Linked DNA regions of Homo sapiens: region 2 is linked to region 1. Evidence: fine-mapped expression QTL. A gene starts in region 1. The other region holds a variant in brackets. All regions are shown on one strand. Distances are from middle to middle.

Region 1 (15,421 bases):
GTAATCCCTGCATTTTGGGAGGCCAAAGCAGGTGGATCACCTGAGGTCAGGAGTTTGAGACCAGCCTGGCCAACATGGTGAAACCCCGTCTCTACTAAAACTACAAAAAATTAGTTGGGCATGGTGGTGGGCACCTGTAATCCCAGCTACTCAAGAGGCTCAGGCAGGAGAATCTCTTGAACCTGGGAGGCAGAAGTTGCAGTGGGCTGAGGTTGTGCCACTGCACTCCAGCCTGGGCACCAAGAGCGGAACTCTGTCTCAAAAATAAAATAAAAGCCAAACTCTTCTGTTCAGCTCATTGAAATACTCATTCTATTTTATGGAATGAGATGTTGCCTGATTTTAGAATCACAAATGGAAGCCAATTAAGATCTTTAAATCTGTTATAACTTTGTCCTTGGACAATGGTTAATATTATATAAGGCACTTGAAGCCTAAGGCATAGCAGGCTCTCCATCAGCATGAGCTATGCCTCCACCATAGCACTTACCAAATTGTATTGTAACTATCAGTTAAAAGTCCACCTCCCTCAAGAAATTTGAGTTCCTTGAGGGCAAGAAGTGAGTCTTACTAATTTTTTGTGCCCAATGCCTATCTCCATGCTTGGCACAAAAGATAAATCAATAAAGATTTATTTTTTTAAATAAGGAGGGAAAGAAAAGACTAAGTGTTAGTCGAGCTGAAGGGAGACAGACTTTTGCCTCTCAGTTTTTTGTTTTTTGCTTTTTTTTTGAGACAGAGCCTCGCTCTGTCGCCCAGGCTGGAGTGCAGTGGCGTGATCTCGGCTTACTGTAACCTACGCCTCCAGGGTCCCAGTTCAAGCAATTCTCCAGTAGCTGGGATTACAAGTACATGCCACCATGCCCAGATAATTTTTGTATTTTTAGTAGAGACAGGGTTTCACCATATTGGCCAACCTGGTCTTGAATTCCTGACCTCGAGGTCCACCCACCTCCTCTCAGTTTTAACTTTAAATTATTATTTAAATAAATTAGAGGCTGGGCCCAGTGGCTCATGCCTATAATCCCAGCACTTTGGGAGGCCAAGGCAGGCAGATGATTTGAGGTCAGGAGTTTGAGACCAGCCTGACCAACATGGTGAAACCCCGTCTCTACTAAAAATACAAAAAACTTAGCCGGTCGTGGTGGTGCACACCTGTAATCCCAACTACTCAGGAGACTGAGGCAGAAGAATCACTTGAACCCAGGAGGTAGAGGATGCAGAGCCGATACGGCGCCAGTGCACTCCAGTTTGGGCAACAGAGTAAGACTCTGTCTCAAAAAATAATAAATAAATAAATAAATAAATAAATAAAGACTGGGGAATAGTGAAGTATGAGCATCCCGAATATCTTCCCCACCCCTCACTTTAATAATTTAAACATGTATCCATCTAATTTGCCTTCCAGGCCCAAATCAAAAACATTCACCTTTCAATTTTAATGTTTATGGACAGTAAGTTCTTGTAATTTCCCATAATCTATTAAACTCAAATTTCCAAAATTTGGGTAGTTTCCAGTTTTTGACTATTATAAATACAGCCATTATAAACATAAGTGTGCAGGGTTTTTTGTGGACATATGTCTTCATTTCTCTCAGGTCAATATCTACGAGCAGTGTTGCTGGATCTTAGGATAAATGTATGTTTGTTTGTTTGTTTGTTTGTTTGGAGACAGTGTCTGGCTCTGTCACCTAGGCTAGAGTGCAATGGCTCAATCTCAGCTCGCTGCAATCTTTGCCTCCCGGGCTTAAGCAATTCTCCCACCTCAGCCTCTTGAGTAGCCCAGACCACAGGCACATGCCACCACACCTGGTAATTTTTGTATTTTTTGTAAAGATGAGGGGGGTCTTACCATATTGCCCAGGCTGGTCTCGAACTCCTGGACTCAAATGATCCTCTTGCCTCAGCTTCCCAAAGTGCTGGGATTGCATGTTCGAGCCACTGTGCCCAGCCTACATCTTAATTATGGTCAAAATTCATAGACTAGTACCCTTAAAAAGAGTAAATTTTACCCTCATAAATTATACCTCAATAAACCCTAAAAATAGTAAATAAGTAAGTGGAGACAGACAGACAGACAGACAGACAGACAGAAATAAGAGGCACTCCCCCAAAAGTTCTCAACACAGCCTGGAAGGCCCTGCATTGTCCTACTCCCATCAGCCTTTTCAGCCTCATCTCCCCATGATGCTGCTCACCCTCTGCTCCTCTCTAGTCACTTCTGCCTTCTTTCACACCCTCTACTCACCACATTTCCTCTGTTCCTACAACCTTAGCACATCCAGTTCCATCTACCTAAGAAGCTCTTTCCTTTGCTCTTCCCCATTATCTTAGTAACTGTCACAGTTGTAATTTTACTTTTTTTGGTTTGTGTGTTTTGGAGACGTAGTCTCGCTCTGACGCCCAGGCTGGAATGCAGTGGCACGATCTCTGCTCACGGCAACCTCCCCCTCCCAGGTTCAAGCAATTCTCCTGCCTCAGCCTCCCAAGTAGCTGGGAGTGCCCACCACCATGCCCCGCTAATTTTTTGTATTTTGGTAGAGACGGGGTTTCACCGTGTTGCCCAGGCTGGTCTCGGATTCCTAAGTTCAGGCAATCCGCCTACCTCGGCCTCCCAAAGTGCTAGGATTACAGGTGTGAGCCACTGCACACGGCCTGTAATTTTACTTTTTTATTTTTGTTATTCTTTTACTAGTGTTATGTGTCTCCTCCACTGAAATAAAAGCTCCTTGAGACCAGGGTCTTTGTTCATCACTGTATCTCCAGAACCTAGTACTGTGTTTTACCTACACAATGAGTGTTCAACCATTATATTCAACTGACTACTTCATGTCTCAACCTTAACATGTCCAAAACTGAAATGTTGATCATCCCCCTGCTCCCACCAGGGTCATTACTCCACATGCAGGGCTGCCATAGTGCACAATTCCAAGGAGTGCCATCCACAGCACAGTCTATGGATGGCATCTTGCCTCTGTTAAAGTGAACTAAATATGGCCAGAGAAGGACTCCGTACTTCCATATTTGAGTCCTTATGGACAACCATAAGCTAACTTAATGGGTAGACAAGATTGAAAACCTAATTTAGAAGTATACGACTCTAACAATAGCTGAGTCTTGGCCAATCACAGCAGCCATACTTCAACCACTCATACACTGCTGAGTGTTCAAACTGTGTTTAAATAAGGCAAACGCCAACCTGTAACCAATCCAGCTGTTTCTGTACTTCACTTCCGATTTCTGTACCTCACTTCCCTTTTTTTGCCTGTAATTTGTTCTGACTACCAGGCATCCCTGGAGTCTCTCTGAATTTGCTGTGATTCTGGGGGCTGCCCGATTCGCGAATAGTTTATTGCTCAGATAAACTACTTTACATTTATTTATTTATTTATTAAGATGGAGTCTTGCTCTGTCGCCCAGGCTGGAGTGCAGTGGCTTGATCTCTGCTCACTGAAACCTCCACCTCTCGGGTTCAAGCGATTCTCCTGCCTCGGCCTCCCAAGTAGCTGGGATTACCGGCACGCGCCACCATGCCCGGCTAATTTTTGTATTTTTAGTAGAGACGGGGTTTCACCATGTTGGCCAGACTGGTCTCAAACTCCTGACCTCAGGTGATCCTCCCACCTCGGCCTCCCAAAGTGCTGGAATTACAGGCGTGAGCCACTGCTCCTGGCCAAATTCCTTTACATTTAATTCAGCTGAAGTTTTTATTTTAACAACTTCTTCCCAGTTATGCCCTTCACATGACTGCCAATATGAATGGTGCCCTCTGGAGTTGTGCATTACTCTTCTCAACCTCAGTGATGGCAACTCCATCCTTCCAGTTGCTCAGGCCAAAAATTCTGGAGGCATCCTTGACTCCTCTTTTTAACTCATATCTCACATTTACTCTACCAAGAAATTCTATTGACTCAACCTTCAAAATACATAGCACTTGGGGCCAGGCACAGTGGCTCAGGCCTGTAATTCTAGCACTTTGGGAGGCCAAGGTAGGAGGACCCCTTGAGCCCAGAAGTTCGAGACCAGCCTGGGCAACATTATGAAACAGTCTACAAAAAACACAAAAATTAGCTGGGCGTGGTGGCATGCACCTGTGGTCTCAGTTACTCAGGAGGCTGAGGTGGGAGGATCTCTTGAGCCCAGGAAGTTGAGGCTGCAGTGAGCCCTGATTGCGCCACTACACTCCAGCCAGGGTGACAGAGTGAGATCCTGTCTCAAAAAAATAAACAAAGTACATCAGCGCCTCTCACCTTCTCCATCACTTTCACTGTAGCCTGAACCACCCACCAACATCTCCCATATGGATTATTGCAATAGACTTCATAGTTCTTGTTTCTGCTCTTGCCCTCCTACAAACTACTCTCAATCCAGTAGCCAAAGATCCTTTTTTTTTCTTGAGACAGTCTCACTCTGTTGCCCAGGCTTAAGTGCAGAGCTATGATCATAGCTCACTGCAGCCTCGAACTCCTGAGCTCGAGTGATCCTCCCACCTCAGCTCCCCAAGTAGCTGTGACTACAGGTGTGAGCCACAACACCCAGTTAATTTTTTTTAATTTTTAGTAGAGATGGGGTCTTGCTATGTTGCCCAGCCAAAGACCCTTTAAAACATAAATCTGACCATATCACTACTCTGTTCAAAACCCTGCAGTTCTCAGGAAGTTAGAGAGGAATGATACTTACCAGAGGCTAGGAAAGGGCAAGGTGAAGGAGATGAAGACAGGTTAGTTAATGGGTATAAACATACAATCTGATAGCAAGAATAAATTCTAGGTCAGGCACGGTGGCTCATGCCTACAATCTCAGTACTTTGGGAGGTGGAGGCGAGTGGATCACCTGAGGTCAGGAGTTAGAGACCAGTCTGGCCAACATGGTGAAACACCGTCTCTACTAAAAATACAAAAATTAGCCAAGTGTGGTGGTGCGTGCCTGTAATCCCAGGTACTAGTGGGGGCTGAGGCTTGAATCCGGGAAGCGGAGATTGCAATGAGCCAAGATCAAGCCACTGCACTGCAGCCTGGGCAACAGAGCGAGACTCTGTCTCAAAAAAAAAAAAAAAGAAAAGAATAAATTCTAGTGTTGAATAGCACAGTAGGGTGACTACAGTTAACAATACTTTATTGTATATTTCAAAATAGCTATAAGAGAGGATTTGAAATATTCCCAGCACAAAGAAATAATAAATGTTGCAGGTGACGGATATGCTGAATGTCCTGATTTAATCATTACACATTGTATGCATGTATTAAAATATCACATGCACTCCATAAATATGTATAATTACTATGTATCAATTTTCTTAATGTTAAAAAAATCCAACAACCCTGAAGTGGGTCCCCGTTTCCCTAATTATAAAAGCCAAAGTCTTTCCAATGACCTCTAAGGCCCTCAGGCCTCCCAGACAGCTGCATGACTACATCTCTTACTTCCTTCAACTATGTTCAAATTATACCTTTGGCCAGGCGCGGTGGCTCATGCCTGTAATCCCAGCACTTTGAGAGACCGAGGTGGGTAGATTACTTGAGGCCAGGAGTTCGATACTAGCCTGGCCAACATGGTGAAACCCCATCTCTACCAAAAATTAGCCGGGTGTGGTGGCACAGCTACTCAGGAGGCTGTGGCACAGCTACTCAGGAGGCTGTGGCACAAGATCGCTTGAACCCGGGAGGCCAAGGTTGCAGTGAGCCAAGTTCTCACCACTGCCCTCCAGCCTGGGTGACAGAGCAAAACTCCCTCTCATGAGGCTTACCTTGACCTATTTAACTTGCTACTCTCCAAACCCCCTTACTCTGCTATTTTTATTTCTGCTCTTATAACTGTCTGACATACTTATGTATGATGTTTGTATCCATTTATCGTATTCATTGTTTATTATCTGTATTTCTTCTGTAGGATAAAAGATCTAGAAGAACAAGATGTATTTATGAGAACCTCCCCATGCATCTAAAAGAATGTCTGGCACGTTGCAGGTTCAATAAGTTAATGAATAACTACAGTGTCTGCCAAGTAATTAAAGATTAGCAAATATTAATATAGGAACAAGGGTGACACATATGTTGATACTAGTTATAAAGTTTTTCTCTCCATAGCATGTACTTATTTGTTAATATACATGTATATGGAACTGTGCAGGTAGGGTGAAAACTGGTTTTTGCAGTCAGAGCTTGGGTGATTCCTGGCCTTTCACCACCTCCTATCTGTGTGATCCTGCAGAAGATTCCCAAATAGGAATAAAAACACTTGTCCCATTGACCTAACAGGTTGTTGAGAAAATAAAATGAATGTGAATCATTTAGCAAGCTGAGATATGCAGCATAGTTCTTTAGGAAGAGCAGGATTTGAAACTTTGAATAACACTCATTGTCATCATGCCATTTATTCCCGAAGAGAGTTCCATGCCCTCTGTACTGCCAGTCAGATTTTAACCTTTATTTTTGCCCAGTGCTGACAGGGAGGAACCTCTGAGCTCCCTCACCCTGTTCAGGTTAATTGCCCTCTCTTTTCCTTTCCATTTTCGGATGATGGACAGCAAGTGCTGCGTTCCCTGCTCCCTGATCTCACTGACTCAGACTGCCTCTTACTTTCACCAGGGATGAAAAAGGAGCAGTAACAACACGTGTGTGAGCACTGGCATAGCTTTACGAGAGCTTCAGTGGAAAGGATGTCTCTTCTAAAGGAAGAGATGAAGCTGCTTTTCCCGAGAGTGCAGAACACGGGGCAAACAGTTGATTCAGGAGAACTGGGTTCACTGCCCCATAGCTCTACGAACTGAGAGACTTGGGGAAGTCCCTTCGATTTTACTAGGAAAAGGACGTCATCATAGCTATCACAGTGCCCTTTGGCCCTGGCAAAAGTTTTTGGAGGATCAAAGTGGAAGGAGGCTCCCACACACTGAGAGTTTGTATTGAGGCTTTCGGTGTAGTTAAGAGTGAAACAGGGGCCGGGCGCGGTGGCTCACGCCTGTAATCCCAGCACTTTGGGAGGCCGAGGCGGGTGAATCACCTGAGGTCAGGAGTTCTAGATCAGCCTGACCAACATGGTGAAACTGTCTCTACTAGAAATACAAAATTAGCTGGCTGTGGTGGCACATGCCTGTAATCCAGCTACTTGGGAGACTGAGGCAGGAGAATCGCTTGAACTCGGGAGGCAGACGTTGCAGTGAGCCAAGATTGTGCCATTGCACTCCAACCTGGGCAACAAGAGCAAAACTGCGTCTCAAAAAAAGAAAAGAGAGAGAGAGTGAAAAAGGGCTGAGCGCGGCCGCTTGAGGCCGAGGCGGGTGGATCACTTGAGGTCAGGAGTTTGAGACCAGCCTGACTAACATGGTGAAACCCCCGACTCTACTAAAAATACAAAAGGGAGTGGTGGCGTGCGCCTGTAGTTCCAGCTACTCGGGAGGCTAAGGCAGAGGAATCGCCCGAACCCAGAAGGCGGAGGTTGCAGTGAGCCGAGAGCGTGCCACTGCACTCCTGCCTGGGCGACAGAGCAAGACTCCGTCTCAAATAATAATAATAATAATGAGAGCAAAAAAGAAAGAAAAGCCAAAACAAGCCTCAGAAACTGCCATTTGTTTAATATCTGCATTAAAAAAATTATCCCTTCCATCAGATGAAAAATACCTTATAATTTATGATGGATAATACATTAATTCGTAGCACACTAGAAACAAGGGATTCCTTAAGACACATATGTGGGGTTTTTGTTGTTGTTGTTGTTGTTGTTGTTATTTTTATTATCTTTAAGGATAATTTGTTGGGTAGGGGTCAGTGAGTTGGGAGTCCTGATTGGTTGGGTCGGAGACGAGACACGTAAGTTTAAGTTCTATAATGAAACGCTTTCAATCATGTCAGTTTATCTGTGCCTATAAACACACTCCTTTAGAGAAAATCAAAAGTTTATAGCCAGGCGCGGTGGCTCACGCCTGTAATCCCAGCACTTTGGGAGGCCGAGGTGGGTGGATCACCTTAGGTCAGGAGTTCGAGACCAGCCTGACCAACGTGGTGAATTACCATCTCTACTAGAAACACAAATTGAACGGGCGTGTTTGTGGGCACCTGTAATCCCAGCTACTCGGGAGGCTGAGACAGGAGAATCGCTTGAACCCGGGGGACGGAGGTGGTAGTGAGCCAAGATCGCACCACTGCACTCCAGCCTGGGCAACAAGAGTGAAACTCCGTCTCAAAAAAAAAAGTTTACATATAAGGCTCTCTTAGTATCCCTGGGAAGAGGGTTCATCCTGTCTATGAACGGGTTTAGGATGACACAAATTATCAAATTATCCGATTAGTGCACTTTCCTAACCCATATGTTTAATCAGTGGCACATCCTGGTTTTGAATTATTTAAACGCATTATTATTTAGCCATTCACATACTTACGTTTGTCACTTCCAGTTAAACTGTAGCCACCTACAGAGAGCGAAACAGAAGTCGGCTGATAAAATTTTGATAAAATTTCATTTGCCCGCAGCTGGTCATTTCATTGGGCGCTTTTGTGTTACAAAAGTGTGTGAATTGGCCGGGCGCGGTGGCTCACGCCTGTAAATCCCAGCACTTTGGGAGGCCGAGGCAGGTGGATCACTAAAGGTCACGAGTTCGAGACCAGTCTGGCCAACATGGTGAACCCTCCCCCCCCCCACACACACACACACACCCCGCGTCTCTAGTAAAATACAAAAATTAGCCAGGCATGGTGGTGCGCGCCTGTAATCCCAGCCACTCGAGAGGCTGAGGCGGGAGAATCACTTGAGCCTTGGAGGTGGAGGTTGTAGTGAGCCCAGATCGCAACACTGCACTCCAGCCTAGGGGACAGAGCGAGACTTCCTCTCAAAAAAAAAAGACTTATGAATTGTTTGAAGAGGCACGAGACCGTGGCAACCCTAACTGTCCCCGACATCTGGCAGCCATATGCTATCCTTGAACTTGAACTTCAGAGTGAAAGTATAAATTTGTAAGGGGAAGGCTCAGCCGCAAGTCACATACCAGTGGTCAGTTAAAAAAAAAAAACTCAGGACGGCAACCTAAATCATTTAGAACGCGTCAAGAGCCTCGGAAAAACTATTTTCACACACTTCTCTAGCACTAACATGGGAAGCGCGTTTCCTTCACATATTCCACACCTTTTATTCTTCCCACCAACATCAAGAATACAAAGCGCCCAGAGAGGACAATAAGCCTAAGCAGCGGCTCCAAGAGACCGGACTTTCGTACTTCCCGGGGGCAGGCGGAAGGTTACGGAGCGCTGGAAGGATCTTACTGCTCCTTGAAGGGCTGTCTGAGAAAATACACAGCCTAACGACTCCTCGTTAGTATAGTGGTTAGTATCCCCGCCTGTCACGCGGGAGACCGGGGTTCAATTCCCCGACGGGGAGGTGTGTAGCTGCACTTTTTTGGCGACAGTTATTATTTTCTGTATCATTCAATGACAGGACACTGCTGTTAAACATAATATGCTAAACCAGCTCCCTTAAGTGCACAACCCTGTCTTCAAAATGGTGACTTTTAACCTTAATGCCCACCATGAAGTGAAAGCCTCCCCTGAGAGAAAATGCCTTACATTGTTTGCAGGAAGGGAGGAAAGGGAAAAAGAAAACGCTCTGAAGGCCTCTGCCCTTGCCTCCAGCCGCCATCTTGCGAAGGCCTGCGCCGGCTTAGTGGCGCCCCGCCAGATTACAACTCGAGGTCGCGAACTCAGCGCGCGGAACCTGTTGGGGGAGGGGAGAGAGGGCGGAGTCTCGCGACTAACGGGGCGGGGGCAGGGCGGGTAAGAACGGAAATCATTTGGTAAAGAAAAGGAAGGGCCAATTTCCTTTGATCCTGGAGACCCGACTAAACGGGAAGCCCCGTTCTCCCGCTTCCGCTGGTTACGTCCCAGCCTTGGTTAGAGGACTAGCAGTCAGGAAAGTTTGGACGCTGAAGGAATCGGTCTCCTGGTCCGACAGATACTGGGTGGAGGGGCAGAGAGTAAATGGAAGAGAAAGACTGGTACCCCTGGAAGAAACGCCATTTACTGGTGTCCTAAGAAACTGCGCGAGCCACAGCCCAGCAGGACCTCGTGGCGCAACGGTAGCGCGTCTGACTCCAGATCAGAAGGCTGCGTGTTCGAATCACGTCGGGGTCAAACTTTTTTTTTTTCCTCCTGTATTTTAAACTACCGACTACTAGAAGCCGAGGTGTATTCCTGCCGCCAATTTTCTTGAATGTTAGAATTAAGTTTTCCTCTTTCAGGTATTATGATACTAATCCTTGGTTTGCAGGAAGATATGATTTACTCTATATCGAAGAGCCTCAAGGCTGATGTTTTTATCATTTGGCCTTTTAAAGTGAGTTTTTTTGTCACTTAACATGCATAATGTGTAAAGAGGTGGACTATTACTGCTGTGCATTAGTGGGTGTATCAGTCCACTAGTCTATCACAGGAAGTGTACAATATACTGTACAAGCTGTTTTTTCCAAACAGTTTTAGGCTGTTTGCCTTTTGAAAGAGAGTACAATAGTGTACAATTTCTAATTTTGAATATTATGCTAATCAAGTGTCTTAGCCCTTACCATGTGCCAACACTGTGAACAACCTCACAATGTGTGACTATTATCCCACTTTTACAAATGTGGCTGTGGCTCACAGGGTTAGTGACCTGCCAAGGGTCACCCAAGATTCTGAACCAGGTGAGGGACTCTGGATCCCTCTTTATAAATACTTTATAATAAAGGTGGAAACAAACAGTTGAAAGAATGTGTGACTGCCAGGCTCAGTGGCTTACACCTGTAATCCTAGCACTTTGGAAGGCCAAAGTGGGTGGATCACGAGGTCAGGAGTTCAAGACCAGCCTGACCAACATGGTGAAACCCCATTTCTACTGAAAATACAAAAATTAGCTGGGCATGGTGGGGTGCACCTGTAATCCCAGCTACTCCGGAGGCTGAGGCAGAAGAATTGATTGAACCCGGGAGGCGGAGGTTGCAGTGAGCCTGGGTGACCAAGCAAGACTCCTTCTGGAGGTGGGTGGCGGGGAGGAATGTGGGAAAAGCTGTTGGACTGGGCGCCTTTTATGTTTTCACCGATTATGCGAGTGATGACTAGTCACCACTTTTGACTATTAATCTCTTTAATAGCAGGAAGCAAAGCTTGCTCGTTCACATTTGCAAGCTCCAGGACTCTTAGTACTAAATAGTGCCCTACACGTAAGTGTCAAATATTTGTTGAACAGAAAATGAATAGCAAGACTATGAGAAATTAATAGTTTTAGATTTTGATGATATGTTTTGTAAAATTCCTGAGGTTTTCTGCTTAGTATTTTGAAAATACCAAACACTAATTTCTTTTGATTCAACCTAATGTAGCAGTATACCTGGAAATTATATTTGCACATGGTGTGGTTTGTTCTTCCCTCTCCTGTTTGGATTAAAATTAGATCATCCATTTCAACGGGTATTTATGGACTGTCAACTCTGATGAGCCTGATACTGTGCTAAGTACTAAGGATGAGGATACACTGAGTAAAAATGGGTTTTTTTGAGCATCAGGAGACAGATATGTTAAGCCACCAAACGCCATAATGTGTTGGGGTAAGTTCATGTTACTTGGTAAGAACCATGAAAGTAACATGAACAGAGTGGTATGGGGGTGCTAAAACAGTGGACAGTAACTCCACATTGGGTTGTATGAGGCTATAACAAGGTGATACAACCTCTCCATCTACATCACAAAAATATGGTTTTGTCCAAATGAGTTAACATGATTGGTCCAAGCTACGATATATGCAGTATATGCAAATGATGCCAGAGGGAAGAAATGGCTTCTGTTATGGGCTGAATTTTTTTTTTTTTTTTTTTTTTGAGATGGAGTCTCACCCTGTCGCCCAAGCTGGAATGCAGTGGCAACCTCCGCCTCCCAGGTTCAAACGATTCAGCCTCCCAAGTAGCTGGGATTACAAGTGCACCCCACTACACCCAGCTATTTTTTTGTTTGTTTGTTTGTTATCTTTAGTAGAGACAAGGTTTCACCATGTTGGCCAGGCTGGTCTTGAACTCCTGACCTCATGATCCACCTGCGTCAGCCTCCCAAAGTGCTGGGATTACAGGCGTGAGCCACCACACCCAGTTTATGGGCTGAATTTCATCTCCCCAACATTCATATGTTGAAGCCCTCACTCCTAGTACCTCAGAATGATCGTAAGACCTGATTAAGTACGCTAGGTGCAGTGGCTCACGCCTGTAATCCCAGCACTTTGGGAGGCCAAGGCAGGTGGATCACAAGATCAGGAGTTGGAGACCAGCCTTGCCAACATGGTGAAACCCTGTCTCTACTGGAAATAGAAAAATTAGCTGGGCGCGGTGGCGGGTGCCTATAATTCCAGCTACTCGGGAGGCTGAGGCAGGAGAATTGCTTGAACCCGGGAGGCAGAGGTTGCAGTGAGCCGAGATCGCACCACTGCACTCTAGCCTAGGTGACAGAGCAAGACTCTCTTTTAAAAAAAAAAAAAAAAAGACATTATTAAGTAAAAATGAGGCCATTAGGGTGGGCCCTAATCCAGTCTGACTGGTGTCATATTTATAAGAGGAAATTTGGACACACAGACACCAAGGATGTGTGCACACAGGGGAAAGGCCATGTGAGGATACAGCAAGAGAGTAGCCATCTACAAGCCAAGGTCTAGGAAGAAGCCAACCCTGCTGGCCTCTTGATCTTAGACTTCTAGCCTCAAGATCTCTGAGAAAATAAATATCTGTTTACTTTTATTATGGTAGCCCTGGCAAACGAATACAGCTTCCGTCAAGAACTACTAGTTCTGCAGAATGGCTGGAGAGGTAAATAGGCGTCAGCATACAGGATCAGTGTGCCATTCCAACTAATTTAGATTTTATTCTGAGGGCAATGCAGAACTATAATTCATGACTAAGACAATCCAGCCAGCTTCACAAAGACTAAAAAATGGCCAAGAACTGTTCCTGGACCACCATCCTGGGAATAAGTTAGAAATGCAAATTTTCAGGCCTCACCTCAGACCTACAGTCTCAGAAAATTGGGTGTGGGGCACAGCAACAAACCTTCCAGCCGTTTTGATGCAAGCTAAAGTTTGAGGACCTCCGGCCTATAAAGCAAGGCAAGACTAGACGTCCTACTTACCCCACAGGTTAAAAGGATCAAATAAGATAAAATACATCAAAATGTTTTTGAAGCTGTTATACATGTCATTATTAATACTGTTATGGCTCTAAAACTGTCACTTCCCAGGTCCCAGATTCTTTCCCAAGGCTGGACATCTGTAGTTTTTTAGAATGCTCCATCTGATGACTTTCTATAACTTTGAAATGACTGCAAATCCAACACTTTTTAACTTAATCTTCTATACTCATGATATAGGGATGATATACGGAAAGAGTTTTATAGGAAAGGTGGAAACAAAGAGCTATCAAGAGCTATGAAGTGTCAGGATTTGAACTGAAACATGGACCTGTCTAGAAAAGACAGCTCTGTGGATTTGTTCTATTTCACTAAGAAATGTCTATTCATGTATTCTTGCAAGAGGACTTATCCACTACTATAGAATGCTCTGAGCATTTATTTCACCTGTTTAATAGCCTTGCTTTCTTTTCTGAGAGTATTTTAGTTACTTAAGTCCTGTGAAAGAAAAATCTCGGTGTTACTGGGGTCCCAATCCAGACCACAAGAGAGGGTTCTTGAACCTCACACAAGAAAGAATTCAAGGCGAGTCCATAAAATGAAAGCAAGTTTATTAGGTAAAGGAATAAAGAATGGCTACTCCATAGGCAGAGCAGCCCAGAGGGCTGCTGATTGCCCATTTTTGTGGTTATTTCTTCATTATATGCTAAACAAGGGGTGGATTATTCATGCCTCCCCTTTTTAGACCATATAGGGTAACCTCCTGACATTGCCATGGCATTTGTAAACTGTCATGGTGCTGGTGGGAGTGTAGCAGTGAGGACAACCAGAGGTCACTCTCATCGCCATCTTGGTTTTGGTGGGTTTTGGCAGGCTACTGCAACCTGTTTCACCAGCAAGGTCTTTATGACCTGTGTCTTTTTTTTTTTTTTTTTTTTTTTTTTTGAGACAGAGTCTCACTCTCGCCCAGGCTGGAGTGCAGTGGTGCAATCTCAGCTCACTGCAACCTCCACCTCCCAGGTTCAAGCAATTCTTCTGCCTCAGCCTCCTGAGTAGCTGGGACTACAGGCACGCGCCACCACGCCCAGCTAATTTTTGTATTTTTAGTAGAGACAGGGTTTCACCATGTTGGTCAGGCTGGTCTCGAACTCCTGACCTCGTGATCCACCTGCCTTGGCCTCCCAAAGTGCTGGGATTACAGGCGTGAGCCACCGTGCCCGGCCTATGACCTGTATCTTCTGCCGACCTCCTATCTCGTCTTGTGACTTAAAATGCCTTAACTGTCTGGGAATGCAGCCCAGTAGGTCTTTTCTTTTTTTTTTTTTTTTTTTTTTGAGACGGAGTTTTGCTCGTTGTCCAGGCTGGACTGCAATGGCGCGATCTTGGCTCACTACAACCTCCGCCTCCCGGGTTCAAGCGATTCTTCTGCCTCAGCCTCCTGAGTAGCTGGGATTACAGGCATGTGCCACCACGCCCAGCTAATTTTGTATTTTTAGTAGAGACAGGGTTTCTCCATGTTGATCAGGCTGGTCTCAAACTCCCGACCTCAGGTGATCCACCCACCTTGGCCTCCCAAAGTGCTGGGATTACAGGCATGGGCCACCGTGCACGGCCTTACCCACCCTTTTTTCAACATGGAGGTGCTGTGATTCAAACCCCTCTAACATCAGGACCCCAAAAATGACTAAGCCAAAGGGAAAGTCAAGCTGGGAACTGCTTAGGGCAAACCTGCCTCCCATTCTACTCCTAAAAAAAAAGATAGCTACTAAGATAAAAAAGCTATATATACCTCCCTCACAATTTGACCACAAAGAAATTCCTTGTGGACAAAGGACAGATAGAGATTTAAAAAGTCATCCCTCTGCTCATATGAGATAAATGCATATCTGATTGCCCTTTTGTTTCCCTAAGCCAGACTAACATAAGTGACTATTCCTGTAAATAGTGTATTCAGTGAAAGGCTAATCAGCAACTCAAAAGAATGCAACCATTGGTCTTTTATCTACCTATGACCTGGAACACCCCGGAGCCCCCCAACCCCCACTTGTATTAATAGCTGTCCCGCCTTTCTGGATGGGACCATTGTACATCTTAAACATATTGATTGATGTCTCATGTCTCCCTAAAATGTATAAAACCAAGCTGTGCCACACAACCTTGGGCACATGTCGTCAGGACCTCCTGAGGCTGTGTCATGGGTGTGTCCTTAACCTTGGCAAAATAAACTTTCTAAATTGATTGAGACCTGTCTCCGATTCTCTTGGTTTACAGAGCGATGTATTCTGGACGAACTAATAAAATTG
Region 2 (16,430 bases), 27 kb before region 1:
ATAGAGAGCTTTGTAAAATTTCTCTTGCAGAACTTCCTCAGACTGACTACCCACCTTCATGTGACAATGTGTTCCTTTCCTTTTTAATCACTCCTAGGTTTTCATGATGTGCACTGACCAAATGGACAAGAAGGCTTTGGAGGGTCAAGAATGACCAACTCCAGATGAAACTGTATTGCTTTATCAGAAGCTTATTTTTCTTTTTCTTTGTTTTGTTTTGTTTTTTGGAGATGGAGTTTCATTCTTGTTGCCCAGGCTGGACTGCAATGGTGCAATCTCAGCTCACTGCAACCTCCGCTTCCCGGGTTCAAGTGATTCTCCTGACTCAGCCTCCCGAGTAGCTGGGATTACAGGCATGTGCCACCACACCCAGCTAATTTTGTATTTTTAGTAGAGACGGGGTTTCTCCATGTTGGTCAGGGTGGTCTCGAACTCCTGACCTTAGGTGATCCATCCACCTTGGCCTCCCAAAGTGCTGGGATTACAGGCGTGAGCCACCGCGCCTGGCATTGTTTTGTTTTTTTTTTTTAAACAGGGTCTCATTCTGTCACTCAGGCTGGAGAGAGGCGGCATGATCATGACTCACTGCAGCTTCAACCTTCTAGGCACAAGTGATCCTCCCACCTCAGTCTCCTGAGAAGCTGGCACTACGAGTATCCACCACCATGCCCAGCTAATTTTTTTATTTTGTTTGTAGAAACAGGGGTCTCACTATGTGGCCCAGGCTGGTCTAAAACTCCTGGACTCAAGTAATCCTCCCACCTCCGCCTTCTAAAGTGCTGGCATTATAGGTGTGAGACAACACACCTGGCCAGAAGCTTATATTTTTAACAGGAGACAGACAGCAGTCTGATATGCTTGTAGAGGGAAGGAAAGAGAGATGGTGGAGCGGAGAAAGGCCCACTGGGGGAAAAGCTGGAGAATGAGAAAGAAGCTGTGCTGGCTGGGCGCAGTGGCTCACACCTGTAATCTCAGCACTTTGGGAGGCCGAGGCAGGTGGATTGCTTAAGGCCAGGAGTTTAAGACCAACCTGGCCAAAATGGTGAAACCCCCGTCTCTACTAAAAATACAAAAATCAGCAAGACGTAGTGGTGCACACCTGTAGTCCCAGCTACTTGGGAGGCTGAGGCATGAGAGTTATTTGAACCTGGGAGGCAGAGGTTGCAGTGAGCCAAGATCATGCCACTGCACTCCAGCTGGACTCCAGCTCTAAAAAGAAAAAAGAAAAAAGAAAAAAAGAAGGAAGCTGTGCTACGGTTATTTATTCTGTCCCTCTTTCAGAAATTCAAAGTGAGGCCGGGTGCGGTAGCTCACACCTGTCATCCCAGCACTTTGGGAGGCCGAGGCAGGCAGATAGCTTGAGGTCAGGAGTTCGAGACCAGCCTGGCCAACATGGTGAAACCCCATGAAATTCCATCTCTACTAAAAATACAAAAATTAGCCAGGTGTGGCGGCATACACCTGTAATTCCAGCTACTCGGGTGGCTGAGGCAGGAAGTATCCCTTGAACCTGGGAGGAGGAGGTTGCAGTGAGCCGAAATCATGCCACTGCACTCCAGCCTGGGTGACAAAGTGAGACTCTGTCAAAAAAAAAAAGAAAGAAAGAAAGAAAGAAAGAAAGAAAGAGAGAGAGAGAGAGAGAGAGAGAGAAAGAAAGAAAGAAAGAAAGAAAGAAAGAAAGAAAGAAAGAAAAGAAAGAGAAAGAGAGAGAAAGATTCAAAGTGAGAGTCAGAGTACTAAAAACTGTATAGAATGACTGAGAGAAAGAAATCTATTTAACTTGCTTTAACGTATCCTTTCTAATACTGACTGACTGCAAAGCCCTTCTTCATATAAAAACTTTTAACATCCCAATTCTACAGAATGAGTTTTGGGGAATGTGGTAGCCAGCCTCCAAGATGACCCCCAGTGATTCTCACAGCCTAGGATTCATATCCTTGTGTGACCCCTCCCGCATTTAAGAGGGCTGACCTGTGTAATGAAAAGAATATTGCAGAAATGAGACAGTGTGATTTTTAAGGCTAGGCCATTAAAGATGTTGTGGCTTTCACCTTGCACTCTCTTGGCTTGTTCACCCTGAGAGAAGGCAGCCACCGTGTCATGAGGACACTCAAGCTGCCTGTGGAAAGACCCACATAGGGAGGAACTGAGTGAGCTCACTCTTGTGTGCCATCTTAGAACTGCATCCACCAGCCCTGGTCAAGCCTTCAGATGACTGCAGACCCAGTCAACACCTTGACTGCAATCTCATGAAAGACCCTGAGACAGACCCACCCAGCTAAGTCAGTCCTAAATTTCAAACCACAGAGACTATGTGAAATCACAAATATTTATTGTTGTTTTAAGCCACTAAGTTTGGAGGTAATTAATTATGCAGCAACAGATAACTAGTACAGGACTATTAACCTAAAGTACTTGATGTCAATCATTTTGGTTTGTCATTAAATCATCATACAGCTTTAGTATGGCATATGGTTTTACACTATTCTACTTCTCTAGGTACACTTCATTGATGTAGGGATGGACTCATATATTTTATTTTTTTTTATTTTTTTTTTGAGACGAAGTCTTGCTCTTGTCCCCTAGGCTGGAGTGCAATGGCATGATTTCGGCTCACTGCAACCTCTGCCTCCTGGGTTCAAGCAATTCTCCTGCCTCAGCACCCTGAGTAGCTGGGATTACAGGCGCCTGCCACCATGCTCAGTTAATTTTTGTATTTTTAGTAGAGACAGGGTTTTACCATGTTGGCCAGGCTGGTCTAGAACTCTTGACCTCAGGTGATCCACACACCTCGGCCTCCCAAAGTGCTGGGATTACAGGCATGAGCCACCGCGCCCGGCTGGATGGACTCCTATCTAAAGCCAATCAATCTTTGTCATTCCCTAGGATTTTTGTAACTGAAGCTGAACAAAGATTTATTTATTCTCTGTTGGTGAGGCCAGGAGATGGTGAGACTCAGGAACTGCTAGTGGCCACATTTCTTGCTATGTAAAGAAAGCTTTTCTAAGAGAAAGAAGTTAACAACACAGAGAGAGAAACAGAATTGAGAGACTGAGAAAAGAAGACCTAGCAGCACTCAAATCACCTGTTCCAATGACCTTGATACCACCTGCCACTCATCCTTCTCAGTGTGAGCCTTCCAGTAAGTCCCCTTCTTTTTGCCTAAGTTGGTTTAAGTTGGGGTTCTAGAGGGTGGGGGTGGGAGGAGGGAGAGCATCAGGAAGAATAGCTAATGGATGCTGGGGCTTAATACCTAGGTGATGTGCTGATCTGTGCAGCAAACTACCGTGGCAGACATTTACCTATGTAACAAGCGTGCACATCCTGCACATGTACCCCTGAACTTAAAAGTTGGAAGAAAAACAAAACTTGCAACAACCCCTAAAAAATAATAAGCTGGGTTTCTAAACCTTTCCTCCAAATGGGTCTTGACTGATGTATTCTCACACAACTCTATGCTTCCCCTAGCACAGCACTGATGACTGAGCTGTAATTGCTGGGTGCTTGTCTACCTGTCTACCTCTCTGTCCAGAAGACAGTGGCTTTCAGGTTCATGCATTCTGCCCATCGCTGGGGCACTCAACTGAGAGGGAAGGAAGTGGGGATGCACTCAATACACACAGGTAGGATTGCGACAACCATGTGTGTACTTCATAACCCTGAGCCCTGAACCACAGATGATTTACTCGAGCTGGGCCACAGTCTCCCTGTAGCAATTTGGGACTGAGTCATACAAAGATTGGACACTGAAACTCCTTCACACAAATAATAGCACTCTTCAGAGGATGTTATTAGCCTCTGGCTAGTAAGGGGCCCCAAGCTGTCTTCTGCGAATTCTCTAAGAACCTCTAATATTCCTCCAACAAGCTTGCAAGGTCATTTCTGCTTCCTAAAGCCAAAAGAAACTGAACTAATACACACCCCAAAATATTGTAGTTTCTGTGTGAGCAGGAACAACGTGTTCCTCATTATAGCTCCAAGGCCAGCACGGTCCCTAATCAGAACTCACTGAACACCTGATGAATGCCTGCAGCTCACTGCACTGAGTGGGAGATGCTCCTCCCACTTAGATAGGGATTTTTTTTTTTTTTAACTCTCTTGCCTTCAAGGTCCTGCGCACATCTGCCCTGGCCTTGGTCTCCCTGTGTTGTCAGCTACAGTGGCCAGTGTGTCCTCTGTAGGGTACATCACATCCCTGCTCAAGAATGCATGTTAGAGACTAGAAGTACCAGGCCTCTCATCACCTAAGAAACTTTACCCTTGACTACCTGCCCAGGGTCATCAGGCCTATCATACTGGTTTCCCTATACATCTTGTGTGTGCTGAACTAGGGCCGTAATGATAAGTCCATTTCCATTTCCAGTGTTGGGTTTTTTGTTTGTTTGTTTTTTGTTTTTGAGACAGTCTCGCTCTGTTGCCCAGGCTGGAGTGCAGTGGCATGATCTCGGCTCACTGCAACCTCCACCTCCCAGGTTCTAGCGATTCTCCTGCTTCAGCCTCCTGAGTAGCTGGAACTACAGGCACACACCACCACGCCCAGCTAATTTTTGTAGTTTTAGTAGAGACGGGGTTTCACCATGTTGGCCAGGATGGTCTCTATCTCTTGACCTTGTGATCCTCCCACCTCGGCCTCCCAAAGTGCTGGGATTACAGGCGTGAGCCACACGCCCGGCCAAGTGTTGGTTTTAAACTGGCCATGTTTCTGGGATTTTCCGACTGGCAGAGGCCACTACCTACTACTGAACTATATAGAACTTAGGAGTTTCTTGGGTTTTTCCAGTTTATAAGATGCAGGCAAAACTTGAAGGGAGGCAGGGGTTGCGGAGGGGAAGATGACCAACATCACAGGAAACATAAAAACATCATTATGATCATTATGTTTTCCTGAAACCCCAGAGAGGAGGTGAAGGGTAGGATGCAAGCATCCTTCCAGTCAGCTCTCTCCCAGAGCCCTGCATTTGATCCCATTTGGGGCATGTTCCTCTTCCCTCCCATCACAGCCTTTGCTAAGGCTGACCCGTGAAAGGCTGTACCTAGGCAGGGTGCTCTTGAGGAGAGTAATTCCGCATCAGGCTGGGAGTCAGTGACCAGGCAAGGCTGTGTGACCCAGGCAGGCCCCAGGCCCATCCCCTTCCCCAGTGCTCTCCAACCCACCTCTCCATTCTCTGCTGAGACTCTGACCTACCAAGTATCTAAGATTTATCTCCAACCTCTTCTTTTCTCCTAACTCTTTCATTTAATCTATAAACACACTCATGCTTCCCCTCATCCTTTGAGAGACAGAGAGGGAGAGAGAGAGAAAGAGAGGAGGGGAGAGGGGAAAAGAATATACTAGCCAGGCGCAGTGGCTTACGCCTATAATCCCAGCACTTTAGGAGGCCAAGGTGGGCAGATTGCTTAAGCCCATGAGTTCAAGACCAGCCTGGGCAACACGACAAAGCCCTGTCTCTACCAAAAATGTAAAAAAAAAATGAGCCTGGCATGGTGGTACGCACTAGTGGTCCCAGCTACTCAGGAGACTGAAGTGAGAGGATAGCTTGAGCCTCAAAGGTGAGATTATGGTGAGCCAAGATGGCACCACTGCATTCCTCAGCCTGGGTGACAGAGCGAGACCTGTGTCAAAAAAAAAAAAGAAAGCAAAAAGAAATGCTAGGTCAAATAGTGTTCCCCAATAATTCATGTCTACCTGGAACCTCAGAATGTGACCACATTTGGAAAGAGGGTCTTTGCTGATATAATTAAATTAAGATGAGGTCTTGGTGGGGCGCAGTGGCTCACACCTGTAATCCCAGCACTTTGGGATGCCAGGGTGGGCGGATCACCAGAGGTCAGGAGTTTGAGACCAGCCTGGCCAACATGGTGAAACCCCCATCTCTACTAAAATTACAAAAATTAGCCAGGCGTTGCAGCATATGCCTGTAATCCCAGCTACTTGGGAGGCTGAGGCAGGAGAATCACTTGAACCCAGGAGGCGGAGGTTGCAGTGAGCCGAGATCATGCCACTGCACGCCAGCCTGAGTGACAGAGACTCCATCTCAAAAAAAAAAAAAAAAAGATGAGATCCTATTAGATTAGGATGAGTCCTCATCTAATGACTGGTGTCCTTATAAGAGAAAACAGAGACCCAGAAGAGACACACAGGAAGAACACCCTGTGATGATGGAGGCAGAGATTGGAGGGATGTGGCTACAAGCCAAGGAACACCAACAATTGCCAGCAACCACCAGAAACTAGGAAGAGGCAAGGAAGGGTACTCCCGTAGGGCCTTCAGAGGGAGCACAGCCATATTGACACTCTGATTTCAGATAGCCTCCAGAACAATGTGAACAGAAACAAAAACATTTGTGTTGTTTTCAAGGCACCAGTTTGTGGTAATTTGTTACGGTAGCCCTAAGAAATGAATATACTTTCCATTTTGTTATTTTCTTTCTGCTCATCTGAATTTCCTAATTTTTCTACATTGAACATGGATTATTCGGATAACAAAAGCTTAAAAATTCCAAGCTCTTCCTTGATTCTGCATCCCCTTGCTCCTTCCCTGGATGGTCCAGCTTCCCTCGCAGGCTGAGTGTAGTCAATGTCTTACTTGCTCTCCTCCCAAACAGGCCTCTGCTCGGTGCAGTCTGGCTTCTACCCCCACGACCCCAAGAACCTGCTCCACCAAACATTGCCACTGGCCTCCATACTACTAAATCTCCCAATGTGTAACCCTTCTTACTGACCATCTCTACCACGTTTGTCAAATTCTCTTGCCTCCTTAAAAAGCTCTCCTCCTAATGATGCACACCATGGAGTATTCACAGCAATTAAAAACTGTGAGTTGGGGCTAGGCGCGGTGGCTCACACCTGTAATCCCAGCATTTTGGGAGGCCGAGGTGGGTGGATTTCTTGAGCCAGGACTTCAAGACCAGCCTGAGCAACATGGTGAAACACATCTCTACAGAAAAATTAAAAAATTAGCCAGGCATGGTGGTAAGTGCCTATAATCCCAGCTACCCGAGAGGCTGAGGTAGGAGAATCGCTTGAGCCAGGGAAGTGGAGGCTTCAGGTGGATACTCCAGCCTGGGCAACAGATTGAGACCCTGTCTCAAAAAAAAAAAAAAAAACAAAAAAAAAAGGAAAGAAAAAAAATAGAAGGAAAGAAAAAGAAACCTCAATGAAATTTTCCAACAGGGACCTACACTATAAATACAGACACTAGGCAATTGTCTTATTCCACTTTAGGTTCCCAATAAGGCTACACACTTAAGAACTGCAGGAATATTTAAAATAATTGAATTATTTCAATCTCAAACCATTTCATTTTATAGTATCAAAGCCATAGAACTCTATGTAAAATCAGTAGATTTATTCAGAACACTTTATTATTTCAACAAGAAAAACTGAAAGATTGTGTTTTTACATTTCCAGGAATTTGAAGTGGGAAAAATCTTAAACTTTAAGGACATTGTTTTAATATGATTTCTTGCAATTGATATTTATAATAATAAATTTTTTTCACCTTCCTCATTATTAAAACTTTAGAAACAATGAACATAAACCTTTAGAAATCAAAATGTTATTAAGGTTTTGTTTACACGAGCAGGTCTTGAGTTTCTAGAAAAAAAAAACAGAAAACAAAAAAAAAACCTGAATGAACAAATCAACAGGTCTATTCAAGAAAAACACATCACCTTTTTTTCTATCTAAAAAGTTCATTCCTAGATTATCTCCGTGGCTTAAATCCTGATATTATACAGATTTCAGCAGCTTGTAAGTTTCCTCTGATCCTCCCTTTATATAAGCTTTCCTATGATTTCCCATCAAGTTTTTCAATTTGTTTTAAAACCACAGACACACACACACACACACACACACACACACACACACACACACACACACACACACACACACACAATTGCACATCCTCCTCTCCCAGGGCTCTCCTAATAATCTGATTTTCTGATTTATTTTTCTTGTTCTTTTTTTTTTTTTTTTTTTTGAGCCAGAGTCTGGCTCTGTCACCCAGGCTGAAGTGCAGTGGTGCACTCTTGGCTGACTGCAGCCTCTGCCTCCCAGGCTCAAGTGATCCTCACACGTCAGCCTCCCAAGTCGCTGGGACTCCAGGCACATGCCACCAAGCCCAGCTAATATTTGTAGTTTTTGTAGAGACGGGGTTTAACCACATTGCCCAGGCTGAAATCTGATTTATTTTCAAGGAGATTGGCACCTCTCAGGGAATCTTCATTTTCTCTCTGTGCTTCATTGTCCAGGAATGCCAAGCATTCTCTCTCGTAGATTACACTAGACAGGCCTGTCTTCCTGGCAGCAACAGCACGCTCCAGGCTGAAGCAACTGCAGAAACTGCGAAGAAAAACAGCACCCCCATCTCCCCTCCCTCAGGGACTATATGAGACTTAACTAAATTTGTAATCTGACTAGGATCCAAATTTTTACCCTAGAGCAAACCAACAGCTCCAGGCCAAGAGCCTAAGATTCTTCTGTCCTAGGAATGACCCACTAAGTGAGTTAAAACCTACCAATCTAAGCTAACCTAAACTAGGAGCTGGCCCTAAACAGCATTTACTCTTCCTCCAATGACTTCATCTCTTCTGATAAAATTAATCAGAGGTTCAACTGAGTTATAACTCTACTCTTTTAAATATGCTTCTTAAATTTCCCATTGGCAATAATACACTAATGATTAATTGAATGCTATTGTATTATAGCAATTAGATTTATATCCTGGGATTATTTGATATTAAAAAATATTGATCAATCCTGATTATGTGGATTGAAAAATTAATCCTATAAGTAAACAGCATATAAATAGTATATAACATAATATATACATATATATAAATAATATATGTCCTTATAGTATAAAAGTTAGAAATACAGACAAAAAGAAATGGGGGACAGTCCCATATTTTCTTATAATCCAGAATGTACATTTGTAGCATTCCTAGGCATATGTAGCAAGCTGATATATAAAATGTTAACTAGGCCACGTACAGTGGCTTACGCCTGTAATCCCAGCACTTTGGGAGGCTGAGGCAGGCAGATCACCTGAGGTCAGGAGTTTGAGACCGGACTGGCCAACATGGCGAAACCTCGTCTCTACTAAAAATACAAAAATTAGCCAGGCATGGTGGTTTGTGCCTGTAATTCCAGCTACTCAGGAGATTGAGGCAGGAGAGTCGCTTGAACCTGGGAGGCAGAGGTTGCAGTGAGCCAAGATTACACCATTGCACTCCAGCCTGGGTGACAACAGCGAAATTCCATCTCAAAAAAAAAAAAAAATTAACTGCTTTGGTTTCTAAGACTATGGTTGCCTTACCCCTCACCAGCTCCCCCCACTTCCCCACCCCAGAGAAGAAACTATTCTAAAGTGTTAGGACTTTCAGTGACTAAGAAACCACTTAAGTCAATTGTGATTATCTGGAAGCAACTAAGTGTCATTTTCTGTATCAGAATGAATGGGCAGGAGATGGACTCTGGACGTAGAAATATGGGGAAAGAAATCACAAATTGAGGCCGGGTGCAGTGGCTCACACCTGTAATCCCAGCACTTTGGGAGGCCAAGGCGGGTGGATCACTTGAAGTCAAGAGTTCGACACCAATCTGGCCAACACGATGAAACCCTGTCTCTACTAAAAATACAAAAATTAGCCAAGCGTGGTGGTGCGCACCTGTAATCCCAGCTACTCAGGAGGCTGATGCAGGAGAATTGCTTGAACCAGGAGGCAGAGGTTGCAGTGAGCCGAGATCATGCCATTGCACTCCAGCCTGGGTGACAGAGCGAGACTTTGTCTCAAAAAAAAAAGAAAGAAAGAGAAAGAGAGAAAGGAAAGAAAGGAAAATAAATCACAAATTGAGTTTTAGAAAATAATTAAGTTACATTTCTAGCACACTGATATGGTTTGGCTCTGTGTTCCCACCCAAATCTCATGTCAAATTGTAATCCCCACATGTCAGGGGAGGGACCTGGTGGGAGGTGATTGGATCATGGGATTGGTTTCCCCCGTGCTGTTCTCATGATAGTGAGTGAGTTCTCACGAGATCTGATGGTTTTAAAAGTGTTTGGCAGTTTCCCACTTGCTCTCTCTCTCTCCTGCTGCTATGTAAGACGTGCCTTACTTCCCCTTTGCCTTCCACCATGAATGTAAGTTTCCTGAGGCCTCCCTAGCCATGCAGAACTGTGAGTCAACTAAACCTCTTTCCTTTTTAAATTACCCAGGCTCAGGTAGTTCTTTATAGCAGTGTGAAAATGGACTAACACACCCATTTTTTGTCCTTGACACATCATACCCACTACCCACGTGCACACACACAAGCATGCACACACATACACATATGACTTTGCATATTTGTAAGCAAAAATGGAATCATACCATACGTGCTGTTCTATAACCTGCCTTTCTCATGTAATAACATACCAAGCTTTCAATGCCAGGCTGAAATAGGCTCAATCACCCTCACCCCATCAGGTTATGGGAGATTGCATTTTCCAAAGAAGCCTCAACAATATCTTCTATCCCATACATTCTTCGGCAATGTGACCTTGTCACTCTCCTCTCAAGAAGTGGAGTCTAATTCACCTACCCTCAAATTTGGTTTGGTTTTAGTGACTCCCTTATACCAATAGATGGTGATAAAAGTGACTACATTGTGATTTCTTTTTCTTTTTTTCTTAGAGACAGGGTCTCACTCTGTTGCCCAGGCTGGAGTGCAACGGTGCAATCATAGCTCACTGCAGACTCGAACTCCTGAGCTCAAGAGATCCTCCTGTTTCGGCATCCCAAAGTGCTAGGATTACAGGCATGAGACACTGCATGCAGCCAAGAACATATGTTGACCTAAAACTGGCATTCTGTGATTGTAATGGAAAACAGATAAAGCAGGAGGAAGATGTAGGAAGATGGTGAGTATGAGAGAGGCATTTATAAATTATCAGAATATTAGTACTAATCCTTCTTGGCTTTTTTAAACCAGAAAAGGGAGCTCTGAATTTAATTCCCAAACTGTAATTTCTGGGACAAAAACTACCTAATGTACTATAATGGTTACATTTTATATCATCAGCTTTGATTGTCCTACATAAACACCAGTAACAATACCAATAAGAAGATCAATAATAATAGTAATATAAGTTTGTAATCAGTGACTTATTCACCATACGCCAAGCACTAGGTTAAGTGCTTTATGCTTTATCTCATTTAATTTTTTTTTTTTTACACGGGGTCTCTATCACCCAGGCTAGAGTGCGGTGGCACAACCATTCCTCACTGAAGCTTCGAACTCATGGCCTCAAGTGATCCTCCTGCCTCAGCCTCCCAAGTAACTGGGACTACAGGTGCATGCCACCACACCCAGCTAATTTTTTTATTTTTTGTAGATACATGGTCACACCATGTTGCTCAGACTGGTCTTAAACTCCTGGACTCAACGGATCCACCTGCCTTGATCTCCCAAAGTGCTGAGATTACAGATGTGAGCCACCGTGCCTGGCCTATCTCATTTAATCTTAACAGCACCCCTGTGATGTAGCCACTATTATCATACATATTTTACAAATGATGAAACAGGCTTACGAAGGTAGAGAAGTTACCCAGAATGACTCAGGTGGGAAGCTATGGGGCTG[G/A]ACTTGAACTAAGGTATACCTGACTCCATGCTCTTAAGCCTGTTTGTTACTCAATTTGACATGTGTTCTATTCACAGATGCTGTATTAGTCTGTTCCATTCTCACATTGCTATAAAGAACTACCTGATCACCCACTACCCACACGCACTTTGGGAGGCCAAGGTGGGAGGATCGCTTGAGCCCAGGAGTTCAAGACCAGCCTGGGCAACATAGCGCAACCCCATCTCTACAAAAAATACAAAAATTAGCAGGGCATGATGATGCATGCCTGTAGTCCCAATTACTCAGGAGGCTGAGGCAAGATGATCGCGTGAGCCCTGGAGGTAGAGGCTGTAGTGTGCCAAGATCTCATCACTGCACTCCAGCCTGGGCGACAGAGTGAGACCCTATCTCAAAAAAAAAAAAGAACTGAGACTGGGTAATTTATGAAGAAAGAGGTTTAATTGACTCATAGTTCCACAGGCTGTATGGAAGCATGACTAGACCTCAGGAAACTTACAATCACGGCAGGTGAAGGGGAAGGAAGCACATCTTACTATGGCAGAGGAGAGAGAGAGAGAAAAGGGGGAAGTGCTACACACTTTTAAACCATCAAATCTTGTGAGAACTCACCCACTATGATGAGAATAGCAAGGGGGGAAACTGCCCCCATGATCCAATCAGCTCCCAACAGGTCCCTCCCCCAACATTGGGAATTACAATTCAAGATGAGATTTGGGTGAGGGCATAGAGCCAAATCATATCAGCATCTTTTGCTCAGAATTCCCATGTCTGGGGAATTCTCCACATTATAAGTCTCACCATCAAAGGTGGAAATCAGAAACTGGACTTCTCAGCCCTTCTTGCAGCTGGCATGCTGACTTGTGGCACAAGCCTTACTACCCAGATACACCCATATGAAGATTCAATTTGCAGAAGAACAGTATGAGAAAACAGGCAGTGCACAGAACCCATGCTTCCAGGGAGCGCTCCAGTGGAGGTGCCATTCCCATGAAGGTCTTCACAGCAGACAGCAGTGGAGGGGAGGGTGTTCTAACAGGGTCTTCAGTGACAGACACTGTAATGAAATCTTTGCTGTATCCACCAAGTCATTTGTTTCTGACTGTCAAGCTGCCAAGCCTAATTCTGGCCCTCCCAGAGTTTCTGTGAGCTTTAAGTTAGACCTCAATAAATTGTATTTCTCTCTTTTTTTTTTTTTTTTTTTTTTGATGTGGAGTCTCACTCTGTCACCCAGGCTGGAGTCCAGTGGCGCGATCTCGGCTCACTGCAAGCTCCTCCTCCTGGGTTCAAGCAACTCTCCTGCCTCAGCCTCCCGAGTAGCTGGGACTACAGGCACGCACCACCACGCCTGGCTAATTTTTTGTATTTTTAGTAGAGATGGGATTTCACCGTGTTAGCCAGGATGGCCTTGATCTCCTGACCTCCTGATCCGCCCACCTCAGCCTCTCAAAGTGCTGGGATTACAGGCGTGAGTCACTGCACCCGGCCTATTTCTGCTTTAACTAGCCAAAGTTTTGTTACATGGGACTAATAACCTGACTGGCACAATCTCTTCAAAACTCAGGAACTAATATTTCAAGCAGAAGTACAGAGATCTGTTTGTTCTGTTTTTCACAAGCTACAATCAATTTCATTATTAATGATTTGTTTTAAATGCACACACTTTTTCTAAGTGGGTGAGTCTTCTAATAATTCATCAAAAGTAGCAGGACTAGCTAAACTCGTCAGCTACATAGAGAGGTCTGCTGACTTTTCCCCCAACTGAGAAGCATTTCTTTCATGAGTAGAAATCCCAAAACACTTCAAATATACATTTTACCCTTTGGATATATTTTCTTTCTTTGCTTCCTTTGCTATTAATATTAATGTAATATATCTGGTTCTAACTGTGAATTTAATCAAATTCTTATTCTTTTGTCTTCACTTTATTCCTAAGGCCAAACTCTGAAACTTTTGCTAATTCCTGTCAGATATTTCATTCTCATAAAATGTCATCCTCGTCATCTCTCCTACTGATGGATTAAATGACATTACATAATTGTGAGGCATTTAGAACACTTTTTAAAATCTTATTTTTCCTACTGGTTGTCCACTGATCAACAGTCTGCCATGTTACATGCGGTATCCTTACATGAGGAACATGGCAGACAGAGTTGGTTGCCTTCTTGACAGCCATTTCCCATTATTTCTTGCTCAAAGAGCTTCAACTTGTGCAGGCATAGGCAGAAATATGCTCTTCCCCCAGCCCCAGCTAATTAATCCTGATGGTTTCCCTTTCCTTTTGCTGTGATTTAGGGTAGGCATCAGGTAGGTATATAAATTTGCCCAATCACTCTGGTCTAACTTTAAAACAATTTATGGTCCTCATAAAATAAGACGAATGCATGAAGAAGAGCGTCTGTACTCTCTTTTTCCTAATTTAGACATCATGCACGGATGTGATGTTTGCAGTTGCAGCAGGCATTTTGTAACCATGAAGAATTAAAAAATAAAAATAAAAAATAAAAATATAATGCCAGGCGCAGTGGCTCACAGCTGTAATCCCAGCACTTTGGGAGGCCGAGGCGGGCAGATCACGAGGTCAGAAGTTTGAGACCAGCCTGGCCACCATGGTGAAACCGCGTCTCTACTAAAAATACAAAAATTAGCCAGGCGTGGTGGCATGCACCTATAAGCCCAGCTACTGAGGGGGCTGAGGTGGAAGAATCACTTGAACCCGGGAGGCGGAGGTTGCAGAGAGCCGAGATCGCACCACTGCACTCCAGCCTGGGCAACAGAGTGAGACTCTATCTCAAAAAAAAATAAAATAAAATAAAACTAAGTGTTGAGGATGTGATGGTCAGGAGAGCAGCCAGTAGAAGTCAGTGATTCACATAACTTCACCTGCAAGCCATGGAAAAATCTCAGCAATCTAAGGCAAGACACTGCCTTCAATCCCAGCTGCTGACAGCACCAAAACAGGAAACTCTCAAGATTTTGCCTTCAGCCCATGTGTCTGCCTTCAACTGCCTCTGTTGAATAATGGTTTTTCTTTTCTGCTTTCCTTCTCACACAAGTGCCTCTCATTGGCAAACTCCAACTTGGAATCAAATGAAGGAGGGGATTCTGTCACATGTAACTACAGGTTTCTCTTCTTTAATGCAGAGCGGACTCTAGAAGGGATAATGGAGAGGTATAGCTGGACAACAGACAATCCAGCACAATGAAAGTGAAATGATGCCTTCAAAATTTTGAGGGCTAATAACTTCCAACTAGAATTATATTCTCAGCTAAGCTATCAATCAAGTATAAACATAAAATTGAATCCAGGCATGGTGGCTCACACCTGTCATCCTAGCTGCTTGGGAGGCTGCGGCAGGAGGATCCCTTGAGCCTAGGAGCTCAAGGTTACCATAAACTATGATCACATCACTGCATCCCATCCTGGGTGACAGAGCAAGACCCTATCTCTAAAAATAAAAATATAAAGGTTTTTTTTGGCTGGGCACAGTGGCCCACACCTGTAATCCCAGCACTTTGGGAGGCCAAGGTGGGCAGATTGCCTGAGGTCAGGAGTTCAAAACCAGCCTGGCCAACATGGCGAAACCCAGTCTCTACTAAAAATACAAAAAAAATTAGCCAGGCGTGGTGGTGGGTGACTGTAATCCCAATTACTTGGGAGGCTGAGGCAGGAGAATCACTTGAACCCAGGAGGTGGAGGTTGCAGTGAGCCAAGATCGCACCACTGCATTCCAGCCAGGTGGCAGAGTGAGACTCCGTCTCAAAAAAAAAAAAAAACAGAAAAAGAAAAAAAAAAGTTTTTTAGACATAAAAGGTCTGAAAAAGTTAACTTCCGTGTACCCATTCTCAAGAAATTTCAAGAAGATTGACTCCACCAGAATAAGACGAAAGCAAGAGAGAGTGTGAATTAAGAGTAAAGAGGAAGAAATGAGATGCAAGAAAGAAGCAATCCAACACGAGAGAAATAAAAAGGGTCCTCAGGAGGATGATAAAAAGAGGTCCTTGAATGACAGCTATGTGTCAGATGCAGAGGACAGTCAATCCAGATGGGAGCAATGTGACACAAGATGCAGACATCACAGGAGCCATCTCGAAGATACCCTTTGCCATTGGACCATCTTTTTGAGGCCTGGTGAATCTGACCTAGATTTTGTCTGTGCTTGGCACATCTTGACTATGTACCAATGGAGTTTCTGCTCTCCTCACCATGACAAGCAGAATTCTAAAATGACCTCCATAATCTCCACCCCCTAGTTATGAGTAGGTTTATGTCACCTTGCATGACACAAAGTTTTGTAGATGTAATTAAGGCGACTAATCAGTTGACTTTAAGACAAAGGATTATCCTGGTAAACCTGACTTAATCACATGAGCCCTTTAAAGGCATTTTAAGAGCATTTTCTCTGGCTGGTAGCAGAAGAGAAAGCCAGAGAGATTCTAAGCACAAGGGAGACTCAACATAAGGGAGACTCATCATAAGGAAGAGTCTCCAATGCTGAGTGGAGGGGGCCACCTGAGAGCAGCCTCTACGAGCTGGCAGCAGTCCCCACTGACAGCCAGAAAGAAAGTGAAGGCCAGGCACAGTGGCTCACGCCTGTAATCCCAATACTTTGGGAGGCCAAGCGGGCAGATCACTTGAGGTCAGGAGTTCAAGACCAGCCTGGCCAACATGGTGAAACCCCGTCTCTACTGAAAATACAAAAATTAGCCAGGCATGTTGGCAGATGCCTGTAATCCCAAGTACTTGGGAGGCTAAGGCAGGAGAATCGCTTGAACCCAGGAGGTGGAGGTTGCTGTGAGCCCAGAC

The links. PIP is the estimated chance that this variant, and not a neighbour inherited with it, causes the effect.
Region 2: its variant is the best candidate, but not a certain one, in a credible set for the expression of LINC02453 in whole blood (INTERVAL, PIP 0.80).

What each region holds. Positions count from the first base shown.
Region 1 is chr12:98,494,209-98,509,629 of GRCh38, forward strand. It overlaps LINC02453 (long intergenic non-protein coding RNA 2453), which reads right to left and starts at 9,647. Exons shown (of 4, transcript NR_038383.1): 1 at 9,552-9,647; 2 at 8,375-8,404. TRD-GTC1-1 (tRNA-Asp (anticodon GTC) 1-1) reads left to right here and starts at 9,295; the gene lies at 9,295-9,366. It overlaps TRW-CCA4-1 (tRNA-Trp (anticodon CCA) 4-1), which reads left to right and starts at 10,044; the gene lies at 10,044-10,115. RefSeq lists enhancers at 9,385-9,694, 9,705-10,004, 14,161-14,704.
Region 2 is chr12:98,467,204-98,483,633 of GRCh38, forward strand. It overlaps LOC124902994 (a long non-coding RNA gene), which reads right to left and starts at 9,792. Exons shown (of 2, transcript XR_007063420.1): 1 at 9,672-9,792; 2 at 7,347-7,596. RefSeq lists an enhancer at 1,900-2,269. The variant G/A (reference allele first, on the strand shown) is at 11,624.